Linked DNA regions of Homo sapiens. The protein of the gene in region 1 interacts with the protein of each later gene in a pairwise test. Each region holds a gene or a part of one and is shown on either strand. Other genes may lie near its edges. The genes, in order: TCF25 and NEK2.

Region 1 (3,823 bases):
TCATATTTGGAAATAATATAATCAAAATGTTTATTGGCATTCTGTTAAATAGCTCTTAATAAACAGAAGTATGGGAGACAGTAAACAGCCAGTTACGACTAAATGGTTATGAATGTGAATGCATTGGTGAGAGACATGGTGTTTCTCTTTTTAAAAAATTTTATTTATTTAGAGACAAGATCTCTTTATGTTGCCTAGGTTGGTCTTAAACTCCTGGGCTCAAGAGATCCTTCCGCCTTGGCCTCCCAAAGTGCTGGAATTGCAGCTCCCAGTACTTTGGGAGGTGGGCAGATCACCTGAGGTCAGGAGTTCGAGAGCAGCCTGGCCAACATGGTGAAACCCCATCTCTACTAAGAATACAAAAATTGGGCCAGGCGTGGTGGCACATGCCTGTATTCCCAGCACTTTGGGAGGCCGACGTGGGCGGATCATGAGGTCAGGAGATCCAGACCATCCTGGCTAACACGGTGAAACCCCGCCTCTACTAAAGAAGTACAAAAAAATTAGCCGGGTGTGGCGGCGGGAGCCTATAGTCCCAGCTACTCAGGAGGCTGAGGCAGGAGAATGGCGTGAACCCAGGAGGCGGAGCTTGCAGTGAGCTGAGATCGTGCCACTGCACTCCAGCCTGGGCAACAGAGCGAGACTCCATCTAAAAAAAAAAAAAAAAAAAAAAAAATTGGCCAGGCATGGTGGTGGGTGCCTGTAATCCCAGCTACTTGGGAGGCTGAGGCAGGAGAATTGCTTGAACCCAGGAGGTGGAGGTTGCAATGAACTGAGATTGTGCCACCAGGCTCCAGCCCGGGCAATACAGCGAGACTCTGTCTCAAAAAAATAAATAAATAAATAAATAAATAAATCGTAATAATAATTATGGATTTGTCTATTTCTACTTTCAACCCTGTCAGTTTTTGCTGTGTGTGGGTGTGTGTGTGTTTTGGTTTTTTGGAGACAGAGTCTCGCTCTATTGCCCAGGCTGGAGTTCAATGTCACAATTATAACTCACTGTAATCTTGAACTCCTGGGCTCAAACCATCCTCCCACCTCAGCCTCCCAAGTAGGTGGAACTATAAGTGGGTGTCACCACACCTGGCTAATTTTTTCAATTTTTTTTGAAAGCCAGTGTGCTGGGATTATAGATGTGAGCTACCATGCCTGGCCTAGAATCTTTTCTGAACTGATTGGTAATGAAAATAGCAACCTATCAAAATTTGTGGGATGCAACTGAAACGATGATTAGAACTTTATCATCGTAAATTTTAAATTAGAAAAGTGTTTAAAAATCTAGAAATTTACCTGAAACTTCTACCTTAAACTAGAAAAAGAGCAAATTAAACTCAAAATGTGTCGAAGGAAGAAACTAATCAAAGAGGGGAATGCACAGAATAGAGTATGGACACGATGGAGAGAATCGGTGAGACCGAAACTTGGTTCTCTCAAAAGACGAGTTGGCAAAAACTCTAGATTGACTGATGGAGGGAAAAAGGGAAGGTCCAGGTACGTTACCATTTTCAGGGATGGGAGAGGAGTGTTCACAGGTACAGATGGTGCAGATAGTAACGGGCGATAAGGAACTTCTTGCTAATAAATTTTCCAGATTAGACAAATGGGCAAGTTCCTTTAAAGATAAAACTTATCTAAATTGACATGTGAAGAAATAAAAAAATCTGAGCCCTTTTATCTATTAAAGATACTGAATTTTTTAAAGTATAAAACATTCCAGGCTAGGGTTGGTGGCTGACACCTGTAATCCCATCACTTTGGGAGGTCAAGGCAGATCCATCACTTGAGCTCAGGTGTGTGAGACCAGCCTGGGCAATGTGGCAAAACCCCATCTCTACAAACAATACAAAAAAACTGTCCAAGTATAGTGGCACTCACCTGTGGTCACAGCTACTCGGGAGGCTGAGACGGGAGGATGGCTTGAACCCAGGAGGTCGAGGCTGCAGTGAGGTGAGATGACGCCACCGTACTCCAGCCTGGGTGACAAAGTGAGACCCTGTCTCAAAAAAAAAAAAAAGACAACCTCAGGCTGGGTGCGGTGGCTCATGCCGGTAATCCCAGCACTGTGGGAGGCCAAGGCGGGTGGACCACCTGAGGTCAGGAGTTCGAGACCAGCCTGGCCGACATGGTGAAACTCCGTCTCTATTAAAAATCACCATTTTTTTTTTTTTTTTTTTTTTTTAGGAAAAATGGACATTTTCCTCTCCCCCTAAAAAAAGATAAAACTCCTTCCTGGTTATTAACTGAAATGCTGATCGAGCTTTATCCTAAAGAAGATCAGTCGTGGACAAGAACCTTGTGAAATGTTCCCCATTTGAGACCCTAAAACTAATGAAAATCACAGCTTTTGGGTAGGTAATAAGGTGTTTTGTTTTGTTTTTTGAGACGGAGTCTTGCGCTGTCGCCCAGGCTGGAGTGCAGTGGCACCATCTCAGCTCACTGCAAGCTCTGCCTCCTGGATTCACTCCATTGTCCAGCCTCAGCCTCCTGAGTAGCTGGGACTACAGGCGCCCACCACCACGCCCGGCAAGTTTTTTTGTATTTTTAGTAGAGACGGGGTTTCACCGTGTTAGCGAGGATGGTCTTGATCTCCTGACCTCGCCATCTGCCCACCTCTGCCTCCCAAAGTGCTGGGATTACAGGCGTGAGCCACCGCGCCCAGCCAGTAATAAGGTTTGTCTGACGGTGATTGACAGCATTTTAGAGCTGATGCATGGCAGTAGAGATTGCAGCAAATCATGTGTCATCACCAAAACTTCACTGAAGAAGCAAAACTAGGCCTGTCACCCGTGCTGTCTGTGTACACAGATGGGCTTCAGAGCCTGTCACACGTGTTGTCCGTGTACACAGATGGGCTTCGGGGCCTGTCATACGTGCTGTTCGTGTACACAGACGGGCTCCTGGGCCTATCACCCGTGCTGTCCGTGTACACAGATGGGCTTCGGGGCCTGTCACACGTGTTGTCCGTGTGCACAGATGGGCTTCGGGGCCTGTCACACGTGTTGTCCGTGTACACAGACGGGCTTCAGAGCCTGTCACACGTGCTGTTCGTGTACACAGACGGGCTCCTGGGCCTGTCACACGTGCTGTCCGTGTACACAGATGGGCTTCGGAGCCTGTCACACGTGTTGTCCGTGTACACAGATGGGCTTCGGGGCCTGTCACACGTGTTGTCCGTGTACACAGATGGGCTTCGGGGCCTGTCACACGTGTTGTCCGTGTGCACAGATGGGCTTCGGGGCCTGTCACACGTGTTGTCCGTGTGCACAGATGGGCTTCGGGGCCTGTCACACGTGTTGTCCGTGTGCACAGATGGGCTTCGGGGCCTGTCACACGTGTTGTCCGTGTGCACAGATGGGCTTCGGGGCCTGTCACACGTGTTGTCCGTGTGCACAGATGGGCTTCGGGGCCTGTCACACGTGTTGTCCGTGTGCACAGATGGGCTTCGGGGCCTGTCACACGTGTTGTCCGTGTGCACAGATGGGCTTCGGGGCCTGTCACACGTGTTGTCCGTGTGCACAGATGGGCTTCGGGGCCTGTCACACGTGTTGTCCGTGTGCACAGATGGGCTTCGGGGCCTGTCACACGTGTTGTCCGTGTGCACAGATGGGCTTCGGAGCCTGTCACACGTGTTGTCCGTGTACACAGACAGGCTCCTGGGCCTATCATGTGTGCTGTCTTTGTAAACAGTCAGGATCCCAGGACTATCACGCGTGCTGTCCATGTACACAGGCAGGCTCCTGAGCCCATCACACGTGCTGTCCGTGTACACAGATGGGCTTCAGAGCCTGTCACACGTGTTGTCCATGTACACAGACAGGCT
Region 2 (3,673 bases), on another chromosome or scaffold:
TAGGACAGCATATATGAAAGCTATTATTCCCATCTTTAATAAATTGAGATGTAGTGTGATCAATTTAGTGAGCATTGGCAGCATTTTGTAAATGGAACAGACAAAAAACCCTACTTAAGTTAGATTGATGATCACAATAACTTTGTAGTGAATAAGTGATGGAAAGAAATGAAACTACTGATAGAAGTAAATGAAACAAGGATTATATGAAACTTTGGCTTCATCTCTGTTAAAATACCTTCTTTTTTCCCAATATTGCAGTCTACCATTTCAATATTATAAAAATATTTATTCTGGCTTTTCATAGATTCCACACTGTCATCCATAAAGACAAAATAGACTTAAATCATGATTAGGGTGATAAAATGAGGAGAAAATTTTACCTGGATGAATTTCATGCATCAAACCCATTGCAGAGAATTACTTAAGACCCTGTTGGGGATGGCTGTTCGGTTAAAGAGTTTATTTACATTTGCCCTGATAGTCTTTGAGCAAAAGATGAAAATAGCTAAGTAAGGATGATGTGTTTTACTTTATAGGATACACAGATAAGTATGGGAATCTACTTATATGTGAATCATGGCAAATATTTAAAATGAGCCATAGGAATCAAGTATCCACTGGGGCAAGCAGACATTTTAGGGTATTGAGTGCTGAAAGTAGTGAACACATCAGAGCTATAAGATAAGCATCATAGCAGTGGGGAGCGGGTACCATTCTGAACTCAGGACAGTTGGAAATATTCTCTCCCCATCCTTGGGCTATAAAATCCACACGTGAGGAAGCCATCACAAGTATATTGAAATCATCACAGCAAGCAGCAGTGTCTTTTTTAAAAGCTGTTCTTTTCGTATTTGATGAAATATTCATTCTTCTATTTAATGGAAGAATTTTAAAAATGTTTTTAAAACACTTTCTTTCTTATAAAACTGTCCCATTAAGAGCCAAGTGTGGTGACGCACCTATAGTCCCAGCTACTCTGGGGCTCAGGCAGGAAGATCACTTAAGCCGAGGCGTCCAAGGCTGTAGTGCACTACAGCTGCACCTGTGACTAGCCACTGCACTCCAGCCTGGAAAACATGGCAAGACCCCATCTCAGACAAAAACAAAAACAAAATAAAACTATCCCATTAGTAAGACAATGTTGACTTACAAATGTAAAGGTATTTGTGGTAATAAGAAGGTGGATAGAGTTGAAACAGTGGAGATAAGGTCTAAAAGCAATCCAGTTTGCTTTGAAGCAGAAGCGACGTATGAAGCGGGAAGTCACAGGACCCTTGGAAGGCAGTGCATCTGTGTGCCAGCCTTTCCTATTTCTTCTGCCTGGAGCACTCTTCATCCAGACAGCCCTGTGGCTTCTTACTTCAGAAATGCTGTATGAGGCTTTGTATCATTACACCCAGCACCCAGCACCCAGCATGTCCCTGTTTCCAGAGCTATTTTTCCTAATAGCACGTATTACCATCAAATATTCCCCACCAGTACTTGTTTGTTTGTGTTTGGTTTATCTCCTCCTACTAGAATAGGGCCTTTGTTTGGTTCACAGTGGCCCATCCTATGAGCTCAGTAAATATTCGAACATATTTCCTTTAACACAAAAAATAAAAGGATTCTAGAATCTGTAAGCCTCCAGCCCCCAGTAATTCTGTCAGCAGTTAATAGTGTTGCCACTTTAAGTAAATATGATTATTATTTATTTTTTCCATGTAAAGAATAGTTTACAGTTTTTACTACTCTTACTTGATTTACCTTTTCCACACTGAATTTGTTTAGATTTTTTGGAAACAGATTTCTCGTCCATTAAGATGCTTTGAACTAAGTGTTCTTGAACATTTAACCAAAACTGTAGGTGTTCTCTATTTAAAAAAAAAAAAAAAAACAAAGACAGAAAAAAACCTCTGCTTCTACACTTTTCTGTAGGTAAGGTGTTCTGCATAGAATGGCACTTATTTTCAAGGACAGAGATAAATAACATTGATTTCCAAAAGTTTTATGTTGTCCATAATACTCAGTGTGTTTAAGAGTAAAATTGATTGTTGGTTGTTAAGAGAATAAAACTTATGTTCCTTGAATTTTGGCACATTCCAATATTATTTTTTCAATGCTGTGGATTAAAAGGCTGATTTCTGCAAGTCCTACACCCCTAACCTCCTATCCCAGAGAAAATAAAACAGGCACCTAGATTTCAAATGTGAGCCATAAGAGCAAATACTTTTTGATAAGTATAAGTATGAAGGAGTTGAACTCTGTTCAAGTAACTCAGAGCCCTTTTTCTTTTTCCTTCTAAAGAACTTCTTAATCTTCCATCCTCAGTAATTAAGAAGAAAGTTCATTTCAGTGGGGAAAGTAAAGAGAACATCATGAGGAGTGAGAATTCTGAGAGTCAGCTCACATCTAAGTCCAAGTGCAAGGACCTGAAGAAAAGGCTTCACGCTGCCCAGCTGCGGGCTCAAGCCCTGTCAGATATTGAGAAAAATTACCAACTGAAAAGCAGACAGATCCTGGGCATGCGCTAGCCAGGTAGAGAGACACAGAGCTGTGTACAGGATGTAATATTACCAACCTTTAAAGACTGATATTCAAATGCTGTAGTGTTGAATACTTGGTTCCATGAGCCATGCCTTTCTGTATAGTACACATGATATTTCGGAATTGGTTTTACTGTTCTTCAGCAACTATTGTACAAAATGTTCACATTTAATTTTTCTTTCTTCTTTTAAGAACATATTATAAAAAGAATACTTTCTTGGTTGGGCTTTTAATCCTGTGTGTGATTACTAGTAGGAACATGAGATGTGACATTCTAAATCTTGGGAGAAAAAATAATGTTAGGAAAAAAATATTTATGCAGGAAGAGTAGCACTCACTGAATAGTTTTAAATGACTGAGTGGTATGCTTACAATTGTCATGTCTAGATTTAAATTTTAAGTCTGAGATTTTAAATGTTTTTGAGCTTAGAAAACCCAGTTAGATGCAATTTGGTCATTAATACCATGACATCTTGCTTATAAATATTCCATTGCTCTGTAGTTCAAATCTGTTAGCTTTGTGAAAATTCATCACTGTGATGTTTGTATTCTTTTTTTTTTTCTGTTTAACAGAATATGAGCTGTCTGTCATTTACCTACTTCTTTCCCACTAAATAAAAGAATTCTTCAGTTTCCCTGTAGTTATGTGTCTTGCATTTGTTGGTCTCTTAGTTGATGGGAGTTGTGTTTATGATTTGTAGGTCTTCATTGTAGGGTACAGAAGGAAACATGGATCTGATGCTCAAGGGAGTGGCATTCCAGTCCTAAACTGTATGGCGCTTTACCTCCCATCTCATTAATCCATGTATGTAAGCCAGTGGTCCTTAACAGGGTGATTTTGCTCCTCAAGAGACGTTTGGCAATGTCTGGGGGCATTTTTGATTGTCATGATTTGGGGTAGGGTGCTACTGGCTGCTAGTGGGTACAGGCCAGGGACACTGTAAACATTTTACAATGCACAGGACAGCTGCTGACAACAAAATGTCCATGGGTTTGGATCATAATCCTGAATGATACAATCTCAAATGCGAAAATCCTGAAAGACCAAAATCCCTAATGTCTTAAATCCCAAAAGATCAGAATCCCTAATGTGTGAACTTCCAAAATCACAATCCTGAAAGATTAAAATCCCAGATGTTAAAAT

What was found.
Region 2: the proteins of TCF25 (region 1) and NEK2 interact in a two-hybrid assay, tested with the Homo sapiens proteins (one large-scale study listed by BioGRID and IntAct).

Annotation. Positions count from the first base shown.
Region 1 is NC_000016.10:89,876,277-89,880,099, forward strand, and holds part of TCF25 (ribosome quality control complex subunit TCF25), read left to right. Parts: intron 1-3,823. UniProt on the Homo sapiens protein: Component of the ribosome quality control complex (RQC), a ribosome-associated complex that mediates ubiquitination and extraction of incompletely synthesized nascent chains for proteasomal degradation.
Region 2 is NC_000001.11:211,662,269-211,665,941, reverse strand, and holds the end of NEK2 (serine/threonine-protein kinase Nek2), read left to right. Parts: intron 1-2,289; coding exon 2,290-2,516; 3' UTR 2,517-3,170; downstream 3,171-3,673. UniProt on the Homo sapiens protein: Protein kinase which is involved in the control of centrosome separation and bipolar spindle formation in mitotic cells and chromatin condensation in meiotic cells.